Homo sapiens: one gene and its partners. The protein of the gene in region 5 purifies or fractionates together with the protein of the main gene of each other region. This does not show direct contact. Each region holds a gene or a part of one and is shown on either strand. Other genes may lie near its edges. The genes, in order: FASTKD1, ASF1B, SRFBP1, DLAT and ARHGAP23.

The links.
Region 1: the proteins of ARHGAP23 (region 5) and FASTKD1 purify together in Homo sapiens (affinity purification with mass spectrometry; one large-scale study listed by BioGRID and IntAct). This does not show direct contact.
Region 2: the proteins of ARHGAP23 (region 5) and ASF1B purify together in Homo sapiens (co-immunoprecipitation; one large-scale study listed by IntAct). This does not show direct contact.
Region 3: the proteins of ARHGAP23 (region 5) and SRFBP1 purify together in Homo sapiens (affinity purification with mass spectrometry; one large-scale study listed by BioGRID and IntAct). This does not show direct contact.
Region 4: the proteins of ARHGAP23 (region 5) and DLAT purify together in Homo sapiens (affinity purification with mass spectrometry; one large-scale study listed by BioGRID and IntAct). This does not show direct contact.

Annotation. Positions count from the first base shown.
Region 1 is NC_000002.12:169,556,139-169,561,125, forward strand, and holds part of FASTKD1 (FAST kinase domain-containing protein 1, mitochondrial), read right to left. Parts: intron 4,648-4,987; coding exon 4,249-4,647; intron 4,243-4,248; exon of another isoform or gene 2,786-4,242; coding exon of another isoform or gene 2,775-2,785; intron 1,160-2,774; coding exon 1,049-1,159; intron 1-1,048. UniProt on the Homo sapiens protein: Involved in the down-regulation of mitochondrial MT-ND3 mRNA levels which leads to decreased respiratory complex I abundance and activity.
Region 2 is NC_000019.10:14,119,590-14,124,576, forward strand, and holds part of ASF1B (histone chaperone ASF1B), read right to left. Parts: intron 2,120-4,987; coding exon 1,943-2,119; intron 1,077-1,942; coding exon 870-1,076; 3' UTR 1-869. UniProt on the Homo sapiens protein: Histone chaperone that facilitates histone deposition and histone exchange and removal during nucleosome assembly and disassembly. Cooperates with chromatin assembly factor 1 (CAF-1) to promote replication-dependent chromatin assembly.
Region 3 is NC_000005.10:121,975,111-121,978,974, reverse strand, and holds part of SRFBP1 (serum response factor-binding protein 1), read right to left. Parts: intron 3,661-3,864; coding exon 3,588-3,660; intron 1-3,587. UniProt on the Homo sapiens protein: May be involved in regulating transcriptional activation of cardiac genes during the aging process. May play a role in biosynthesis and/or processing of SLC2A4 in adipose cells.
Region 4 is NC_000011.10:112,034,564-112,039,550, reverse strand, and holds part of DLAT (dihydrolipoyllysine-residue acetyltransferase component of pyruvate dehydrogenase complex, mitochondrial isoform 2 precursor), read right to left. Parts: intron 2,279-4,987; coding exon 2,091-2,278; intron 308-2,090; coding exon 154-307; intron 1-153.
Region 5 is NC_000017.11:38,507,520-38,511,217, reverse strand, and holds part of ARHGAP23 (rho GTPase-activating protein 23), read right to left. Parts: intron 1,275-3,698; coding exon 246-1,274; 3' UTR 1-245.

The DNA of each region.
Region 1 (4,987 bases), on a different chromosome or scaffold from region 5:
AATGAAAAAGCTATAAACAATTGTCATTTCTACTTTGAAAAACAAACCAGCACTTTGGGAGGCTGAGGCGGATGGATTCCTTGAGCCCAGGAGTTGGAGACCAGCCTGGGTAACATGGCAAAACACCATGTCTACAAAAAATACAAAAATTAGTGGGCATGGCGACACGTGCCTGTAGTCCCAGGTACTCAGGAGGCTGAGATGAGAGGATCAATTGAGCCTGGGAGGTGGAGGGTGCAGTGAGTTGTGATGGCACCACTGCACTCTAGCCTCAGCAACAGAGCCATACCCTGTCTCAAAAAAAAAAAACAAAAAAAAAAACGGCCAGGCACAGTGGCTCAACACTTTGGGATGCCGAAGTGAACGGATCACTTGAGGTCAGGAGTTCAAGACCAGCCTGGAGGGCTGGGTGCGGTGGCTCAGGCCTGTAATCCCAGCACTCTGGGAGGTTGAGGTGGGTGGATCACTTGAGGTCAGGAGCTCCAGACCAGCCTGGCCAACACAGTGAAACCCCGCTTCTACTAAAAAATACAAAAATTAGCCAGGCGTGGTGGCACACGCCTGTAATCCGGGCTACTCAGGAGGCTGAGACAGGAGAATCGCTTGAACCCGTCTGGGGCAGAGGTTGCAGTGAGCCGAGATGGCACCACTGCACTCAAGCCTGGGCAACAGAGCAAGACTCTGTCTCAAAAACAAACAAACAAACAAACAAACAAAATTAGCTGGGGCATGGTGGTGGGCGCCTGTAGTCCCAGCTACTCAGGAGGCTGAGGCAAGAGAATTGCTTGAACCAGGGAAGCAGAGGTTGCAGTAAGCAGAGATAGTGCCACTGCACTCCAGCCTGGGCAACAGAGTGAGACTCTGTCTCAAAAAAACAAAAAAAAAAAGAAAAGAAAAACAAAGTAGAACATAAACAGTGGCTTAAGCATTAATTCCTTATTTCTTCAAAACAACTGGTAGATTAAAGAAGAAAACCATTTTTCCTTAGAAAAAAATAGGTGCTTGTGAATGACAACAAACTTAACGTCGTAAATTTCAGAAAAGATACCTTTTAATCAGACATGAGTTTCTGCTTTCCATATCTCCCATTGCTCCCAACACTGCCAGGGCTTGCTCGCCAGTTAGGTCCTCTGACATCAATAACATAGTTGATTTAAGTCTAGAAGCAAAAAAAAAAAAGTTTTTGGTTGAAAGACTGAAAATTAGCTTGCAATTTTTTTTAAATAACAGTTCTTGGGTAACAAATAGGAAAAAAAATATAAACAAAAACTGAATCCAATATATAATTCTAGTGTTCTCCCCACATTACTCGAATATAAAATATTACTGAATAAAGAAAAATATATTGTCTTCTTCAATGAAATTCAGGCCTCATTATAATCCAATCTTAAACTGTTTGAAAAATACAGGTAAAAGATATTTTAAGATTTTCAAATAATACAAGGTTATAATGGTTATAAAATACTATGATTCAGTGAAATTATTCAATACTAGAGAGCTAAGAAATGAACAGTTGATATTCTGACAATTTCCCAAATGTTTTAAAACTGAATAGGAACATCTAGGAGTCAATAAACCTGCATATTATCAGAAATCTCATATACTAAGCACTTGATATAACAGTATAAACTGAAAATTAACAAAGCTGGTCCATTTTGACTATGATTAGTTGTCATTTGAACTATCCAAAGTAGTGCAGTAATGTTAAGTACCATGATACGTGTATTTTTTAGAATCATTTAGAAAGCAAGCTCGAAACGTGACATCTGATAGGATAAACTAATTGTCTATTCACATGGATAACTCCATGCCATCCTTTCCACCAACCTTTTCAAAGGTTTCAAACCCAGTTTCTCCACAAACTTTTCCCAACCACTTCAGTCTATATTTTTCTCTCACTTCTGTCTGCTCACAGCACTATCCATATCACTAATTTTATTGTTTCTTCATAAACTATGTTGTTACAGTATTTACATATTTCAATTATATCTATCCTCTCAATTGCAATATAAATTCCTTGAAGACAGACTCAGTTAAACCCAACTGTTTTATTGCTTTAGCACTGAGATTTTAACAGTACTTGGTGACAAAAAACGGTTCCAATAAAGTTTGTTCGTGTGTGTGTTTCTTCGTCTGTTTTGAGATGGAGTCTCACTCTGTTGCCCAGGCTGGAGTGCAGGAGCATGATAGCTCACTGCAACCTCCGCCTCCCAGGTTCAAGCGATTCTCCTGCCTCAGCCTCCAGAGTAGCTGGGATTAGAGATGCCCACCATTGCACCTGCCATCACTCCCGGCTAATTATTTTTTGTATTTTTTTGTTTGTTTTTTGAGACAGAGTTTCGCTCCTGTTGCCCAGGCTGGAGTGCAATGGCGCAATCCTGGCTCACTGCAACCTCAGTCTCCCAGGTTCAAGCGATTCTCCTGCCTCAGCCTCCCAAGTAGCTGAGATTACAGGTGCCCACCACCACGCCCGGCTAATTTTTTATATTTTTACTAGAAACGGGGTTTCACCATGTTGGCCAGGCTGGTCTCGAACTCCTGACCTCAAGTGATCCAACCGCCTCAGCCTCCCAAGGTGCTGGGATAACAGGCATGAGCCACCACACCCGGCCCTTTTTTTTTGTATTTTTAGTAGAGTCGGGGTTTCACCATGTTGGCCAGGCTGGTCTCAAACTCCCGACTTCAAGTGATCTGCCAGCATTGGCCTCCCAAAGTGCTGAGATTACAGGTGTGAACCACCGTGCTGGGCCCCAATAGTTTTTTTTAATAATCACCTTGTTTCCATCTTGATATAGTCTTAAGATGTGCTCTTAAATTTTTTCATATAATTCAAAGTACTTTTTTTTTTTTTTTGAGTCAGAGTTTCGCTCTTGTTGCCCAGGCTGGAGTGTAATGGCGCGATCTTGGCTTACTGCAACCTGCACCTCCCGGGTTCAAGCGATTCTCCTGCCTCAGCCTCCCGAGTAGCTGGGACTACAGGCGCTGCCATCATGCCCGACTTATCTTGTATTTTTAGTAGAGACGGGGTTCCTCCATGTTGGTCTGGGTGGTCTTGAACTCCCGACCTCAGGTGATCCACCTGCCTTGGCCTCCCAAAGTGCTGGGATTACAGGCATGATCCACCGCACCCAGCCACAAAGTACTCTTAAAAAATAAAACTTTCTCCGTAAAGTTTTCCCTAACAGAGTAATGATACAGATTCCCCTATTGTGCAAGTCTTGGAACCCCTGCTTAAGTGAATCTACTAATCATACTTATGTGTTAGGACTATTATATAAAATTCTTATTTTTTTCTTTTATTTTTTCTTTTGAGACAAGGTTTCATTCTGTGCCCAGGCTGGAATTCAATGGCGCAATGTCAGTTCACTGCAGGCTCAACCTCCTTGGGCTCAGGTGATCCTCATGAGTAGCTGGGAATCTAGGTGGGCACCACCACATCTGGCTAATTTTGTATTTTTTTGTACAGACAAGGTTTCATCATCTTGCCTAGGCTGGTCTCAAATTCCTGGGATCCAGGGATCCACCTGCCTCGGCCTCCCAAAGTGATGGGATTAAAGGCGTGCAACGCCGTGCCCAGCTTGTAATTCTAAATATTTCATACAATTATGCTGGGTGGGGGAAGTTTATGTCTAGTATAAATCCAGTCACATGGCCTAGGAAGAGAAACTCTTATCTATTAACCGTATTTGTATGTTAATTTAATATTTGCTCATCATTATATTTCAAATATTACTACCTACATCAGTATCTAGCAAAACTGGAAATTCCTAAATGAGAGGCGCCACACAAAATTTGCTCAAACCTGACATGGGAACATATGCCCAGTGCATAATAAATGCTTTGATGATTATTGTGATGAAGACAGCAAAGCATAAAATGGCCCTCTGCTATGACTACTATAATTCTAAATATTCCACAGACTTACACTGGGTGGGGGAGTCTTATATGTGTAAATCCAGTCATGTAGCACAAAAGGGAGAATAAAAACACATGGCGTTTCCCCTCATTTTTTTTCATGTTGGCCCAGTATCAGAGGTTTACCTTTCAGAACACAGCAACAGACTAAGAGTTTGAGATGTAAATTAGAATAATCAGAAAAAGAATCAAGGAGCAGAGCATAAGAGATTATTTTCCCTTCCACAACCTAATAGGGTGATATTTGTACCTTCCAGAGCTGCAAGGAGACCTAAGCTTGAAGGCTCCACGTATTCACAACAAAAAAAGTAATGCATTTTAAACTGAACTTACTGTTTCTTTTCTTCAGGTCCTGCAATGGGTCCCAATGCTACAAACAATTTTACAAAGCTAGCAGGATGATTACACAGAGGAATCATTTCAGTTAGCTTCTTTTTAGCCATTATAATAAATTCAAAACTATTAAATTGTAGAAATTTGTATACACTAAGTATTTTACTGATGGAATCCAAATCAAGGTGGTCCACATTACTTAAAAATACGTTATTACATCTTTCTAATAGTGGTTGATAACGATATCTAACATTTCGAAGAAACTTTGCTATGCTTTTTGCAACGTTGACCTCAGAAGAATCTATGGTGTCAAAAAGAAGTTCTGTTTTGTTCACCAGTTGTTGTTGAAAATGTCGTGATATTAAAGAAGATATGTTGACCATCAAGACAGACAAGGAACTGAAAAAGAAAAAAGATGCAAAGATTTTTACATCAATTAAGAATGATCAATTCTTTTTTTTTTTTTTTTTTTTTTTTGTAGAAACAGAGTCTTGCTATGTTGCCAGGGCTGGTCTCAAACTCCTGGGCTTAAGCAATCCTCCCACCTCAGCCTCCCAAAGTGCTGGGATTACAGGCATGAGCCACTGCACCCAGCCACATAAGTGTATTTTTTTTAAAAAAAAGGCAAGGGGCTGGGCATGGTGGCTCATGCCTGTAATCCCAGAACTTTGGGAGGCCGAGGTGGGCAGATCACTTGTGGTCAGGAGTTTGAGACCAGCCTGGCAACATGGTGAAACCC
Region 2 (4,987 bases), on a different chromosome or scaffold from region 5:
ACAACAGCATCCACATGGCAGCAAGGGGACCAGGGCACAGAGAGGGGGAGCGGGCTGGGGAGGGACAGTTTTCAGGGTCCCAGTTGCTTCCCTGGCTTGAAATCACCCTGGTCCTAGCAGAGGACAGGTTAAGGCTGCCAGAGGCAGAGGGTCCCTGACCCTGGCCCGGAGACAGACTGCCCAGGCAGGCCCTCTGATACCATCTTCCAACCATGGCAGCCTCCAGGAAAAGCCAGATCCATTTAGGAGATAACAGGAAGGTGGCTGTGATTGACAGGAAAGGCAACATGGTTCCTCAGCATCCTGCTGATCACACCTCTGGGAGGGGCTGCTGGATTGAAGAGGACCTAAGAATCTTCCTGGGAGCAGGACAGAAATGGGATCTAAGTCTACCTACTAACTAACATTCCCGCCTGTGACACCAGAAAGCTGGAGTGGGTCTGCTCAGATGTACAGGAAGAGAAAGGAATGACAAAGCCTTTGGCTCAGCAGGACTGGAGCCTTGACAGGCACTGACCAAGAAAGCCTCTAGGTGGGCCAGGGAGGTCTGTGGGAAAGCTTTGGATCAATGGTACTCAAGGGTGCACAGTGGCACAGTGGCCTTAGTTAGAATTTATGAAGACGAAAAGAACACAAGTCAGAATTTAGAACTGAAGTACCTGCTTCTTATAGGCCTGTAGAGGAAAAGCGAGATCATCCTTCTGGCCAGGACTAGGGGAGACCCAAGGCCTGTTCTTTCCTAGGGGCTGAGTTTGACAGACCTGGATTGCAGCTGATGGCCCCCAAAGTCCTCTAGATGGGCCCTGCAGGACTCGCTGGGAGGCCTGGTTGCCCCTCCCGGCGTGCTGGGACACTCTGGGTTCCTGCAGTTAGATGCAGTCCATGGAGTTCTCAGGGAGGAGGCCAGGGATGCAGCCAGGGAGCCCCAAGCCCTTGATAGGAGTGCAGTTGAGTGGGAGGCCGCAGCCCAGGGAGGGGTCCTGGGTCTCTATGGCCTCCAGCCTGTCCATGTTGTTGTCCCAGTTGATATGGAAGCGGGTCACCCGGGGGTTCGAGGCCAAGATGTTCCGCTGGAGCTGGGGCAGGAAGAGGAACGTCAACCCTTGTAGGTACGCCCTCTCCTTGGTCCCATAGAGCCAGGACACCCCCAATCACCCATCTCAAGCCCAGCAAGAGCAACCTACATATGGAACTCCAGAAAACACCTGTGGCCAGGACCTTATTTATTTATTTATTTATTTATTTTTTGAGACGGAGTTTTGCTTTTGTTGCCCAGGCTGGAGTGCAATGCTGTGATCTCGTCTCACTGCAACCTCTGCCTTCCGGGTTCAAGCGATTCTCTTGCCTCAGCCTCCTGTGTAGCTGGGACTACAGGTGCAAGGCACCATACCTGGCTCATTTTCGTATTTTTAGTAGAGACGGGCTTTCACCATGTTGGCCAGGCTGGTCTCAAACTCCTGACCTCAGGTGATCCTACAGCCTCGGCCTCCCAAAGTGCTGGGATTACAACGCGTGAGCCACTGTGCCTGGCCCAGGACTTTTTTTTTTTAAGGGACAGTCTCACTCTGTTGGTCAGGCTGGAATGCAGTGGCACGATCTGAGCTCACTGCAGCCTCAAACTCCTGGGCTCAAGCGATCCTCCCACCTCAGCCTCCAGAGTAGAGCACACCACCCATGTCTGGCTCATTTTTTTTTTTTTTTTTTTTTGCGGGGGTTAGGGACAGGGTCTCACTATGTTGCCCAGGCTGGCCTAATCTTAATTCTCTAAGACATGCCTTTGAGAGACAAAGGTCTTTTTCTCCTCTTCTAACACAGTACTGTAAGAACTGAATATTACTTGAAAACCTTAAGAAGTGACCTTGACTCTCAATTTGAATGGCTGAACTCCCCCCAAGTATAAAGAACGGCCTTGTGGGAAGCAGGAAGTGGAAACAGGCCCCACCTGGGAGAAATCTGGCTTCATGGGCGGGTTCTCACGCAGCTCAGGGTTGAGGTACTCGTTGTTGACGTAGTAGCCCACTCGGATGAACTCCTGTCCATGGTAGGTGCAGGTGATGAGGACCACAGTCACACCCACGGCATCAGTCTCTGGGATGAGGGATGGGTTGGGGGCGTCGGCCTAGGGGAGACACATCCTAGGCCTTAGCAGTGCCACAGCCATGCCTCGATGTCATTAGTACAAAGATTCCCAAGCATCATGTATTTACTGAGCAAAAAGTATGCTCTCTGCCCTCAGTTTTCTTTTTTTTACTTCTGCCTCTCGGGTTCAAACAATTCTGCCTCAGCATCCCAGGCAGCTGGGACTACAGGCACACACCACCACACCCGGCTAACTTTTTTTTTTTTTTGGTATTTTTTTTTAATGGAGTTTTGCTCTGTTGCCCAGGCTGAAGTGCAATGGTGCGATCTCGGCTCACTGCAACCTCCGCCTCACGGGTTCAAGCGATTCTCCTGCCTCAGCCTCCCGAGTAGCTGGGATTACAGGTGCCCACCACCATGCCCGGCTAATTTTTGTATTTTTAGTAGAGATGGGGTTTCGCCATGTTGGCCAGGCTGGTCTCGAACTCCTGACCTCAGGTGATCCACCCGTCTTGGACTCCTAAAGTGTTGGGATTACAGGTGTGAGCCACTGCGCCCAGCCTTTTTTTTGTATTTTTAGTACAGACGGGATTTCACCATGTTGGCCAGGCTGGTCTTAAACTCCTGACTTCAGGTGATCTGCCCACCTCGGCCTCCCAAAGTGTTGGGATTACAGGTGTGAGCCATTGCGCCTGGACTTTTTTTTTTTTTACACAGGGTCTGGCCTCCCTCTGTTACCCAGGCTGGAGTGCAATGGCGCCATCATGGCTCACTGCATCCTTGAACTCCTGGGCTCAAGCAATCCTCCTGCTTCAGCCTCCCAAATAGCTGGGACAACGGTGTGTGCCAACATGTCTAGCCAATTATTTTTTGTAGAGACAGGGTTTCTCCATGTTGCCCAGGCTGGTCTCAAACTCCTGGGCTCAAGCGATCCTCTCACCTCAGCCTCCCAAAGGGCTGGGATTACAGGTGTGAGTCACTGTGCCCAGCCAGGAGTTGTCAACTGATGGAAACACAGAATCAATCCCACAAATGACTACAAAACGTTGACTGTGGCAGGGAGAGGTGCGTGGTACTCTGGAGGAGTGTGGTGAGCCGGGGGACAGTGGCATGAAGCTGAACAGGTGAGGCAGGTGGTATCAGGCCACCCGGGGGCCAGCTAAGGGATTGGGAAAGGGCAAGAGAGTAAGCAGGAGGTTAAGTGCCACATCACTCTTGTGATCTGAAAAGAAGCCTCTGGCAAAGTGTGGAGCCGTGACAGGAGACTGTAGTGGAGCAGAAGGCTTACACCAGTCATCCTGGAGAGGCAGTGGACTTGGCTTAGACCAGGCAGTAAAGAACAGATTCAGGGTGTACTACTGCAAACAAGACCAGCCACGTAATTGGTGCAAAATAAAACCAATGCAAAATGAAAACACCACGCCCCTCCAGAAAAGCTATTAGGTTTCAGACGGTGACAGCAGAGTATCGCACCAAGTGTGGGGTCCTGTGCAGCTGCCTGGGTTGCACACCCAGGAGGCCAGTCCTGACTGTTGAGTAGATAGGGCCTGTCAGTGGATTTAGTAGTGGTGGCTGAAGGGGTTAGATAGGATGTGGTAGCTTGGATTAGGGCGGTAACAGCAGTGATGGAGGTAAGGGAGTGTATCCGAGCAGAGGATCCTGAAAAATCACCTGGAGAACTCAGAATCTCCATTTGTTTTTTCTTTCTTCTTTTTTTTTTTTTTTTTTTTTGAGATGGAGTCTCACTGTCACCCAGGCTGGAGTGCAGTGGCGTGATCTCGGCTCACTGCAAGCTCCGCCTCCCAGGTTCACGCCATTCTCCTGCCTCAGCCTCCTGAGTAGCTGAGACTACAGGTGCCCGCCACCAGGCCTGGCTAATTTCTTGTATTTTTTAGTAGAGATGGGGCTTCACCATGTTAGCCAAGATGGTCTCAATCTCCTGACCTTGTGATCCGCCCACCTTGGCCTTCCAAAGTGCTGGGATTACAGGCGTGAGCCACTGCACCGGCCTTCTTTTTTTAAAGAGATAGCTTTTCCCTCTGTCATCCAGACTGGAGTGCAGTGGTGCAATCACAGATCACTGTAAACTCCTGGAACTCCTGGGCTCAAGCGAGCCTATTTTTTTTTTTTTTTTTTTTTAGAGACAGGGTCTCACTCTGTTGCCCAGGCTCGAGTGCAGTGGCGCAATCTCAGCTCACTGTAACTTCCGCCCCCTGGATTCAAATAATTCTCGTGCCTCAGCCTCCCGAGTAGCTAGGATAACAAATGTGCACCACCACATCCAGCTAATTTTTGTATTTTTTAGTAGAGACAGGGTTTCACCATGTTGGCCAGGCTAGTCTTTAACTCCTGACCCCAAGTGATCTGCCTGCCCCAGCCTCCCAAAGTGTTGAGATTACAGGTGTGAGCCATGGCACCTGGCCTCAAGTGAGTCTTCTGCTTCAGCCTCCCTAGTAGCTGGCACTACAGGCCTGCATCACTATGCCTGGTTAATGTTTTTTTTGTAGAGACAGGTCTCGCTGTCACCCAGAATGCAGTGCAGAGGTGCAATCATAGCTCGCTGTAGCCTCAAACTCTCAGGCTCAAGCAAGCCTCCTGCTTCAGCCTCCCAAGTAGCTGGGACGACAGGTGCAAGCCACCACACCCGGCTAATTTTTCTATTTTTTGTAGAGATGGGGGTCTCGCTATGTGGCCCAGGCTAGTCTGGAACTCCTGGCCTTAAGCAGTCCTCCCGCCTCTGCCTCCCAAAGTGCTGGAAGCCACCACACCCGGCCAGAATCTACATTTGACAACCCAGGTGGGGTGCTGCATGAGAGCCATTTAGGAGTTACAGTCCATCCTCATTATTCATGGGTTCCATATGTGCAAGTTCACCTACCTGCTAAGTTTATTTGTAACCCCAAGATGA
Region 3 (3,864 bases), on a different chromosome or scaffold from region 5:
AGAATGTAAAACTAGGGGAAGAATAGAACAAAAGGAGAAAGTTTTAAACTAGAGGAGAAGTAAGAGGTAGCAGGCAGAACAAGGTCTCAAAGAAGAATACATAAATTCTCATCTTAAAGAATATTCAGGATAGGAAGAAGTAACAGCCTTAAGAGAGGAAGAGGTTAAAAAAGAATACAGATAGGCCAGGAGTGGTTGCTCACGCCTGTAATCCCAGTACTATGGGAGGCCGAGGTGGGCGGATCACCTGAGGTCAGGCGTTCGAGACCAGCCTGGCCAACATGGCAACACCTTGTCTCTACTAAAAATACAAAAGTTAGCCAGGCATGATGGCAGGCAACTGTAGTCCCAGTTACTCAGGAGACTGTGGCAGGAGAATCATTTGAACCCAGGAGGCGGAGGTTACAGTGAGCAGAGATCGGGTCACTGCACTCCAGCATGGGCGACAGAGAGAGACTCCATCTCAAGTAAAAAAAAAAGAAATACAGATATAGGCTACTGTGTATATTTACCTGTCAGGAATTAAAGGATCTGAAAACACGTTGCACATCTTTCAGTCTTTTTTTTCCTAGATGGCAAGTTTCATGTTTACTAAATTATCTCCTCCAATATCTAGGAAAGTGAGTCTGGATATATCATAGGATGTTCTCAACTTACTGAAGCAGTATACTACAGTGGATAACATAATTAGCTTTATAATCAGTTATAAGTTGCTCAGTTTCTCTAAGCTTGAGTTTCTTATTCTGTAAGACAGGGATAAAAATGATATCTACCTAGTGAGACAGTAAATATAAAACACATAATATAATGCCTGGCACATAGTAAATGCTCAGTAAAAGCTAGTTGTTACTTTTATTATTGAGTAAGAGACTTGTTGCACATTTTGAGTAATTTCAGTATATGCTTGAATTTTACCATCTCCTTCTCCAGTTAAGTAACTTACTGATCTATAAGTGTTGATAGGCTAATTTAACTAACTTTCAAAGAAAAAGAAACTGTTTTAGAAGGCAATATTTCTACTAATATCAAAGTTAAAAGTATGGACACTATTATAGAAAAGGCAGCAAAGACTTGGGTTTCATACACCATAGTCTATAAAATTAGAACCTATGATTTTATAGTGTAAAGATCAAGCCAATTTTTTTTCTTAGTTGGCCAGAAAAAGCAAACTCTCATTTCTAAAAATACTCATGATTTCTTCACAAAGAAGTCATCCTGCAACAAAATACCCTATTATTATAGAAAGCAAGAATAGGATAGTATGTCATCAATAAGACTATAAAAATGAAGCAGTGTCTGAGCCAAGGAAAAAATTTCTCTGGAAAAATAAATGAGCAGAGGTCTTTTCTCCAAATTTAATTGAGATTGAGAGTTTGTTTTGTCATCATTTATTTGATACTCCCAAGTAGGTAATAACCATTTCCTAAGAAAATTACAAATGACCTTTTAATTAAGAAAAATGCTTTATTTATTTGCTTTGTTTAGAAAAGACAACAAAATTTGTAAAAGAACCATAAATAAGGAATAAAATTTGACACGTAAGAACAGCAAATATATAGTCTTTCTAGTATTCATTTTATATTTAAATTCATTCCAGTTTTTAAAAAGCATTACAAAAGAAGTTGAAGTCAGAGTAGCCAACCCAGCCTGCCCTAACTCCTGCCACAAACTCAAGACATATATATACTATGAATTTTATGAATTTAAGGAATACATAGGCTATGAATTTGGCTTTCTATGATGCAACCATTCCATTGCGCAATCACAGGGAAAAATAGAACACAAATCAAACCAAACCAAACCAAACCAAACCACGATAGTGATGTGGTAATCTTGTAAACCTACAAACTTTATCACTGAATCAGATTTCCCTTTGCTGATGAGATTCAAAACAAGAAACAGAAAACAGGCTTTACATTTAGATCAAAAAGGACAACTTTTCTTTCTAATTAATCAAATGTATCACTGAAATTTACAAAAGGGAAGTATTCTAAAGATTGAGTATCTTTTGTTCTCAAACTCTTCATACACCACATACAAGTTATTATATATAACAAACCATGGAAAGAATGTAGTGTGTGTGTATGTATATATTTTTTATATATATAAAAAATTTAACAAATTCCAGTTTACTCCAGTTTTTAAACAGTATTACAAAAGAAGTTAAAGTCAGAGTAGCCAACTATACATTGTATGTGTATGTGTATGCACATATATATATTATATATATATATACATGCATACACACACACACTGCATTCTTTCCATGGTAAAATAAAATCAGCAATTATATAGTAGCTCAAAGCCTCTGAATAATTTAAGACTACAAAAATGACTATTCAGAAGAAATTACAGGGAAAAATTTAGGTAGGCAATGTAATTTAGTAAGAACCTTGGTTAAGAGAAAGTGAAAGAGATAAATTGTAACTTCCTATTTTATTGCTATTCTCAAGACAAAATCTCTAAAGATTTTATTTCTCATAGGAATATCATTTTAAAAAGGTATATGAAAAAACTAAATAATCTGCAAACCACAGAGACACAAATGATCACTGACAGTCAAATACAGAAGACTTTTTTTTCCTGAAGGACTGAATAAAAAGGGAATTATAACCTTGAGAAATAAAAGTTATATCAGATGGATTCCATGAATTTTATAATAGTGTGCAGCAGAGGGAAGGAAGAACACAAGAAACAAATATACTTCATATCAAAGAGTCGTTTCCTAGATGTTTTTATTCAGATTAACTGGGATAACTTTGTCCTATTAAACACTTTACTATCCGTTTAAAAGGAAGAAAGGCTGAGAATCTTTGATAACTTAACTCAATTAAAATAGTTAGAGAGTTTTATTTCTCTTTTACTTAATTCAAAACTTGAAAGTTATACCAAAATATAATAGGCAAACATGCATGCAAAATGACCCTGCAATTAAGAAAATTGCTGGGACCAAATGTTGTTTTTAAGTTCTACAGTAAAACAGTCTCCCAGACATTTAATGTCATGTCATTTGGTAAATGAAAGTTTCCTCAAAGTAAGAGCAGCAAGAAGACCTAAAAATTATGCTAGTGAAGAGTCTGACTGAAAAAAAAAACAAAAATATGGGATCACATTGGTCTAACACTAATTTTATTTGAAGTTACTACAGAACTGAATAAAATGCCGATACCAATACATAAAAATTTATTGAGCTGGCAACAAGGAAAGCATGATGTCAGCCACCAATATCACCATCCACATTCCCAAATAGCATGAAGACTTTAATTCTTGAACTGACTTCGTGCTAAAGTTACAGTAAAAATAAAAACCTGAGGCAGGAGGCATTATTAAACATAGATGAATTTAGTTTGGCACAATTTTGACTCAAATTAGCCTAGCACTTTAACAAATTCAGTCAAAAACAGAAAAATGCAAGCTTAAATGTTACAATTTTCTAAATGTGCTACATTCTTCACCAAACAGACTGATACAAGATGTCTTACGCAACTCTCGGGAATATTCAAATAAGCAATACCACACACAAACAAAATGCAGGATAACAGGATACTCAGAAACATACACACATACACACCCACACAAGTCCTTACCTTCATGGCATGGATTTCTTCAAGCAATCTTTGCGCCCGTCTTTGGTTTTTTAACAGTGCATCTTCAGTACCCCTGCAAAAAATACATTACGATATGTAGCCAGGCAAAGCATTAATTTTAGACTTATAGTGTAATGGATAATCACTTCATTTCTTTTTAGAAAAGCGTAATAAATCTCTAAATAACAAACACGCCACTATCCTACACTGTCCATTTCCCCCACTCCCAAAACACACCTCAATTTACTAACCAAACCCATATGTTGGAAAATGGCAA
Region 4 (4,987 bases), on a different chromosome or scaffold from region 5:
AGAACTATTTCTCCCTTCTGAAGGAATTATTAATGATTGTCCCTACTATCCCAATTATAAGTACGGCTATACATAGTTGTACTTGCAAGTCTTAAGGAGGAAATTCAACTAAATTTTAACTTTATAAAGTCCATTCTATAGAAACAGATTTACCTTTTACTTGTGTAAGATCAATCCCTTTCTCTACTGCCAACTTCTTTGCAAGAGGGCTAACAAACACCCTTCCCTTTGGTCCAGCAGGAGTAGCTGGGCAGGGTGCTGAAGGTGTAGGAGCTAAAGGCTGGGGAGTTGGAGGAACAGCGGCCACCTTTTGAAAAAAAATTACAAATTGTTTTAATTCACCACTTCAAAGACTGGTCTGAAAGATTAAAAGTTTACATCTTATTAATAAATTAAAACTATTTTAATTAAATATTAATAACTTTCATTTTTCCAAAGATCATAATGTACTTTTCGCCAGCTTAACCAACATAATGTAGTAATACGAACAGCGAGAACAATATACTTCTATATCAAAGACAGAACAGTTACCTTATTCCATAACAACATGAAGCACAGAATTGAATATTGCCAATCAGTGTATAGTATTCTACAGCCTTTCTTCACTTTAATCTCTTACCACTTCTTTATTCGCATTCTTTTACATCACCAACATGATTTTTATTTTTAATTATCCTAACTTCTTTTTTTTTTTTCTTTTTATTTGAGACAGAGTCTTGCTCTGTCACCCAGGCTGGAGTGCAGTGGCGCAAACTTGGCTCACTGCAACCTCCGCCTCCTGGGTTCAAGCAATTCTCCTGCCTCAGCCTCCCAAGTAGCTGGGATTAAAGGCACGCACCACCACGCCCAGCTAATTTTTTGTATTTTCAGTAGAGATGGGGTTTCACCATGTTGGCCAGGCTGGTCTTGAACTCCTGACCTCAAGCGATCCACCTGCCTCAGCCTCCCAAAGTGCTGGGATTACTGGCATGAGCCACCACACCCAGCCAGCTAATTTCAAAATATAAAATTATGCTGTAAGGCCCCATGTTGAAAAGTATCTTAAGAAATACGGCCAGGTGTGGTGGCTCACACCTGTAATCCCAGCACTTTGGGAGGCCGAGGTGGGTGGATCACCTGAGGTCAGGAGTTCGTGACCAGCCTGGCCAACACGGTGAAACCCCTTCTCTACTAAAAATAAAAAAATTAGCCGGGCATGGTGGCTAACACCTGTAATCCCAGCTACTCGGGAGGTCGAGGCAGGAGAATTGCTTGAACCCGGGAGGCATAGGCTGCAGTGAGCCAAGATCACGCCACTGCACGCCAGCCTGGGTGACGGAGCAAGACTCCGTCTCAACAACAACAACAAAAGAAATCCAACAACAATGCTACTTGCCAGCTTCCCACAAATGTACAGTAGTCAGAAATCAACTTTTCTCTTATAGAAATGTTTACCTAGTTTAAACTCACATGATTCTAGCATCTGTGAGAATCACTGAAGCTTCACTGTCAGTGTTATCTCTGGTTGGAGTTATACAAGTTCAGGTTATAGTTATATAGTGTATCAAGTATTTGGTGATATAATAAATTCTAGGCAAAACAAGTCATGTCAAGGTTCCACTGTATCACAAATATATGCTTGACCTACTAAGTCAATAACAAGAGGATTTCAAGTGACAGAGATTATTCAGTATATTTAATAATAAATGGGCAATGAAGTGAGCTATGATTGCACCACTGCACTCCAGCCTCAGCAACAGGGTGAGACCTTGTCTCTTAAAAAAAAAAAAAAAGGGTGGGGCAATGAAGCCTTACTTTCCACAAGCATGGTATCTGTATCTAAAGCAGAAAGAGAACATGTCACTCAGCTTTGTTCTCAGCAGGACTCTAGATAGCAGGAAGAAAAAAGCTACAAGGCCCAAACTATCAACCATTAGGTGAACAGTGCAGTACAACAAACACTATAGGTCTCCACAAATGTTAATAAACTATCTCCCTCCTCAGTCATAGAATCTTGGAGGTGGAAGGAACCTAGGATATCATCTAATCAAAACTCCTTAATTTAGAGATGAACAAGGTAAGTGTTTCCTGAATTCTAGAAGCATACCTACCGGGGGTGGGGTAGGTGGTGGCACTTGTGGTTTTAAATCTGTTACTTCGGTTGGCCTATAGTCAGCAAATGCTGATATATCTGCCTCTTTTTCTACAATGATACAGAGTGGGGTTCCTAGAGGGACATCTCTTGTGCCTTCAGGGACCAGGATTTTTGCCAGATAACCTTCTTCCTGTACTTCAAAACCTTAAATAGAAAGAAAAAACATTATGGGACTTAAGAGATTCCACTATCCCTCCAAACTCACAGCACAGTTTTAAGTAAAGTGATTTTTCTCATTCAAGCTAGCTATATAGCCTTTTTTGCAACCTATTTAACCTTCTGTGTCTTGGTTTCTTTACCTACAATACGGGGATAATAATAGTACCAATCTCACTGGATTGGTACTGGGATGTTATACATTTAAACAGATTAATATTTTTCAAGTTCTTAGAAATAATACAACCTGGTACAAAGTAAATGCCAAATAAAAATCTGTTCAATAAAACTATGAAAGATTACAGACAGTGGTTAGTTCTCAAAGTTATTAAAAAATCTCCAAGGACAGTCCCCATGCAGACTCACAGGACTCTAAGATGGTGTCAGCTATGCTGCTAAAGATAAGAACCACATACATGCCTAATTAAGGGAGCTACCAACCTAGATACTAATGTTGGATTTCAGCCCTAAAAGCATCTTTGGAACTTTTCAAAGAGGTTATACTTGATATTATACCAAGTATTTCAATGTAAAGAATTACAGCTTTACTGGGATTTCTATGGTGTTGACAACTTATATTTTATTCAACTACTGCCTTCCTTGCAAAGAACTTAAACATTTAGGATTGCAAAAGTAAAACTAAAAGAAGCCATTGGCTTTCTGTACTGTTGTGCCTCTCCTTGATGAACACATCTTTGATGAATCCTTCCATTTCCCAGCTGAGAATACCCAATAAAAAATATGTTTAGGCTGGGCGCGGCGGCTCATGCCTGTAATCCCAGCACTTTGGGAGACCGAGGCGGGTGGATCACCTGAGGTCGGGAGTTCGAGACCAGCCTGACCAACGTGGAGAAACCCCGTCTCTACTAAAAATACAAAATTAGCCAGGCATGGTGGCGCATGCCTGTAATCCCAGCTACTCGGGAGGCTGAGGCAAGAAAATCACTTGAACCCAGGAGGTGGAGGTTGTGGTGAGCCGAGATCGTGCCATTGCACTCCAGCCTGGGCAACAAGAGCGAAACTCCGTCTCAAAAAAAAAAAAAAAAAAAAAAAAAAAAACACACACACACACACACACACACACACACACACATATATACACACACATATATATATATACACACACATATATATATGTTTAAGTCTGGAGATATATATATATATGTTTAAGGCTGGGCACGGTGGCTCACGCCTGTTATCCCAGCACTTTGGGAGGCCAAGGTAGGTGGATTACCTGAGGTCAGGAGTTCAAGACCAGCCTGGCCAACATGGTGAAACCCCATCTCCACTAAAAATACAAAAATTAGCCAGGCATGGTGGCAGGCGCCTGTAATCCCAGCTACTTGGGCAGCTGAGGCAGGAGAATTGCTTGAACCCGGGAGGTGGAAATTGCAGTGAGCCAAGATCATGCCATTGCACTCCAGCCTGGGCGACAAAGCAAGACTCTATCTCAAAAAAAAAAAAAAAAAAGGCTGGGTGCGGTGGTGGCTCACGCCTGTAATCCCAGCACTTTGGGAGGCACAAGGCAGTCAGATCACGAGGTCAGGAGTTCAAGACCAGCCTGGCCCACATAGTGAAACCACATTTCTACTAAAAATACAAAAATTAGCCGGGCGTAGTGGCATGCACCTGTAGTCCCAGCTACTCAGGAGGCTCAGGCAGGAGAATCGCTTGAACCCAGGAGGCAGAGGTTGTGGTGGGCCGAGATCACGCCACCGCACTCCAGCCTGGACAACAGAGCCAGACTCTGTTTCCAAAAAAAAAAAAAAGAAGTGTTTAAAATGAAAAGGCTCCTGGGCCACAATAGACTTCAAAGTTCAACCAAGGTAACACTTCTCTAGTGACTAGTCTCTATAGTGACACTGGTATTCAAGTTAAATGGTGAAGCAGAACTACTGTTTCCAAAGTTTCTGTGTTTTTAAGAAACAGAATCCTTTCTTCAAATAAAATTTATGGGGAAGCACAAAATACAAAAAGATAGAAAAGAACTGCTCTGCTGGAAGTAAGGCAGGGAGGCAGGGCTGTAAGGTCCTGCTCTTTAATTCCCCCTTTGCCTCAAGGTGCCTTAAAGGAATGATGGGATTTGAAGAACACAATCTGAAAACAACCAAGGCAGAGGATGCCCAGTACCTCCCATTACATCTTTGGGAAAGGCTTCCCTTTGGTGGTGATTATGAAGCAGAGAGGCTGGGTGCGGTGGCTTATGCCTGTAATCCCAGCACTTTGGGAGGCCGAGGCAGGCAGATCACCTGAGGTTAAAGAGCTCGAGACCAGCCTGGCCAACATGGTGAAACTCCATCTCTACTAAAAATGCAAAAAATTAGCCAGGCATGGTGGTGCATGCCTGTAGTCCCAGCTACTCGGGAGGCTGAGGCAGGAGAATTGCTTGAACCCAGGAGGCGGAGGCTGCAGTAAGCCAAGATCGCACCACTGTACTCAAGCCTGGGTGACAGAGCAAAACTCTGTCTCAAAAAAAAAAAAGAAAAAGCGGGGGTGCAGAGAGAAGAAATTCATAATACTACAAATCGCCATGGCTCACGCCTGTAATCCCAGCGCTTTGGGAGGCCAAGACAGGTGGATCACGAGGTCAGGAGATCAAGGCCATCCTGGCTAACACAGTGAAACCCCATCTCTACTAAAAATACAAAAAATTAGCCAGGCGTGGCAGCGGGCACCTGTAGTCCCAGCTACTCGGGA
Region 5 (3,698 bases):
CAGCCCACGCCCCCTCCTCTTCTGCTCATCACCTCTGGAACCCCCTTCCATTCAATTAGTCCGGCCCCAGCCTTCTCCTCTGCCCTGCCAGTTCCAGCACACCAACTAGAGACACTGCCTGCTGCGCCCTCCACCCACACCATGCACCCAGGGGCCACAGAAGAGGAGGTGCAGGCTGGTGAAGCCTCCTGGTTCCAAAGGGGCTCTAGGGAGGGGTGGCGCCCGAGCGGCGCGGGAGGTGGGGATCACAGACACTGATGCAGGCGGGAGGCGGCCGAGCGGCGCGGGGGCTGGCTCTGCAGGGACCCCGTGTCCCCGGGCGCGGGCGGCTGCGAGGCAGCGGACGACGGGGCCCGCGCCTTGGTGGACTCCAGGCTGCTGAGTCCGGAGTCCTTGTTGTCACTGTGCGCCCGCGCGCCCGCAGGCTCCGGGGGGCCCCCTCCGCCCAGCTCCTTCCACTCGTTGAAGTTGAGGTCAGTCAGCGGGCTCTGCACCACCACGGTGTGGCGGCGCCAGCTGCTCCGGCGCCGCCGGGTCTCGGGCGACAGCGGCCGCCGCAGGCGCACGGCGAGCATGTCGTCCGCCGTGCCGCGGAGCCTTAGACGCAGCGCCTCCATGCGCGAGGGCCGGGAGGCCAGCGCCGCCGCCGGGGGCCGCAGCGACTCCTGGCTGCTGGACGACGCCGAGCCGGGCGGCTCCGGGGCGCGGGGACCGCCCCGGCCCGCGCCCTCGCCGTCTGGGCGGCCCCGGGCCAGGCGGCGGCGCGCCAGAGTGTCGCAGGGCATGAGGTGGTGCGAGCTGAAGGACGGCCGGCGTGTCAGGCGCCCCCCAGGCCCCGCGCCCGCCGCGCCCTCAGTGTCCGTCTCCACGTGGCTCAGCTCGCTACGCTCGTCGTCCGCCTCATCCCCCGCCCCTGCCCGCCGACCGCTAGCGCCCGAGCACACGCTGCGGTCCATGGTGGACAGGGTGGAGTAGCCCGACACAATGGAGCGCGTGTCCGCGGCCGGCCGCTCCTCCGGCGCCGCCGGGGGACTGAGGCGTCCGGGGGCCTCGGGGGCGACGGCGCCAGGCAGCGGCCCCTGCGGCCGCTCCTGAGTCCCCGGCGCTGTGGCCCCCGCCCCAGGCTTGTGCGCCTCCTGCTCCGAGTCGTCGTCGGTGCTGCTGCCCAGCCCCCGCGCCTCCCGCCGCTTCTTGCGCTTGCGGTTGACGGCCGAGATGAAGGAGATCGCCAGCATCTCCCGGGCGTACGGCTCCTTCTTGGGGGCCCACGAACCCTGTGTGGGAGACAGGTCAGGATGCGGGGGGCGCCCGGACTCGGCCCCCTGCCGACCCCGCTCTACCCGGTCCACCCCCACGTCACGGCACCCAGTCGCCACAAGCCCCAGCCAAGGCCAGCACCCACGGCCGCATCATAAAACGCTCCTCCTCCAGCCCCGTGCCGCCCTCCGTCCAGAGACTACCCCCGCTGGCCCAAATCTAGGCTCTCAGCTCTTTCTTGTGAGGTGGGCTGGTCTCCCAAAGCCCCCTTCCATTCTGTTTTCCGTATCCAGCCCTGGCTAAATCCTTTAGACACGGCTCTGGTGATGACAATCTCTCCACAGTGAATAACGCTTGGCAGCCTGAATCCGTTTCACACACGCCCCTGGGGTGTCATCACCAGAGCTTCCTGCATGCTGATCCCCAAATCCCCGCCAGGGGCGCTCTCTGACCACAAGTCCCCCACCTCCTCTCCACCCGCTGCCACCTGGAAACCTGCCTTCCCACCTGCCCAGCATCTACAGGCCTCTCCAGGGCAACCCGCCCAAGTTCACGTCCTCCCCTTTCCGCCGGACCCCACCAGCTCCCCACCCCGCCAATCCCCAATCCCAGGTCAATCCCGCCGCCAGCTCCGCCCCTGCAAGTGGCTGAAAGATCCCGTATGGTGTCATGGTTTGGATTGGAGCCGCTCCCAAACTGTGATTTCCAACCCCAAGTTGGGCAACTTCATGCCGCTGTTCTCACCTGAACCAGCCCTCACTGCTACACCCTGTGGTGTTTTGGGGCCTTGGCCTTTCACACTTTCCCAGGAGGGCCCATGCTGCCGCCCATGGCCTTCTGGAAGCTGGTTTTCATCCGCCCTTCTGGCCTCTCCTCTGCCTCTTGGGAGGTTCTTCTTGCCCGCCCCCCGCCCCGCCCCTGCCTTCCCCTGCCTTCCCCACTGAGACTCAGTGTTCCCAGGACTGTTTTTGGCCCCTTTGCCTTCTCTGTTCGTGTTCCCTAGAAAATACCATTCCCAAGCAGCGCTGCTATCCAGGCCTCCCTGTCCAACACCACACTCACTTGAGCTCCGGGACTCTTCTTCCCATTGAGAATCCATTTCTACCTGGGTGTCTGTAGGCTCTTAAAACTCACCTATCCGGAACCACAGCATCCTACCTACCCCTGCCCCAAACTGCCTCCATTCACACTGCTCACCTTAGGGCGGTCTTGTGACTCCTCCCTCTCTCCTCCACCCACAGCCAAGTCCTGGATTCTTTTGAAATGGCTCCCAAAGCCAACTCCTCCTCCTCCTCCGGCAGGCCCTCATTCTGCCCTCTCTGGGCCCTCCTGCCCCTCCTAATAGGGTTTCCTGCCTCCACCCTTGCCCCAGCCCGGGTCTCTCCTCCAGAGCCACCATTCTGAAGCAGGAATCTGATCCTCACCCAGCTTTGCTCAGAAGCTTGCATGCCCCAGCACCCACCAGGATAAAGCACAAGTTCCCCAGTTCAGCACATGGGGCTCTTCATAACCCAGCCCCAACTTTCCCAGCCTACTGCCCTGCTCTGCCCTGACCCCAACCCCAACACAGCCCTCACTGTGGAAATACAGCCCTACCAACCCTTCCTTTGATGTGACCTACACTGTTACATTGCTGCCAGCCCTTAATGTCCCCCTGCCCTATTTGCTGGATGAGCTCCTACTCACCCTACAAGGCCCAGCTCGAACATGGCTTCCTCTGTACAGCCACTTCCCAGCCCTCCCTTTGCCTGAGATGGGAGATCACTTCTCTATGTTCCTGTCATCTCACTATGCTCCTAGCTCTTCTCACATCAGCCTCATCAAACTCTGAGCTCCTTAAGAGCAAAGGCTGTGACTTGGTTGTTTCTGCATGGCACATAACAGGTGCTCAATAAACATGAAATGAACAAACAATTGGTGAATGAAGTCCCCTTAACACAGGAAGCCTTGTAGAAGCAGACGCTGGGACTGGTTCCTGTCTTGGGCTGGAATGACCTGACAAGGTCACGCTGCCCTTTCAACCCCTCCTCACAGACCACCTCTTGTTTCAGCCATGGTGTAATAATGAATGGAGACCCAGATGCCTCTTGTGGCCACTGCAGCCACTGTCCTTGCTCTCACATTAATTAGTTCTGAGAAAACCAGAGCATGTCAGGGACTCAGGAGTCACAGGCATGTGGCTCCTGGGCCATGGTTGCCCACAATGCACAACACCAGAAGGCACCCCCTGGAGTTGTGCAATGTGGTTGCACTGCTAGGATCAGCCTGGAGCATATGGTGGCCAGTACTGCTTTCTTTCCTGGCCAGTGCTCTCTGAGAGACTTAAGAGGCCGCTAGGATCACCTGATCAAACTACCCTCTCATCCCAGCTGGTTCCAGAAGCAACGAGGTCAGACTGATTTCTCTTCCAAGGAATGCAGAGGTCAGCAGATTCACAGAGA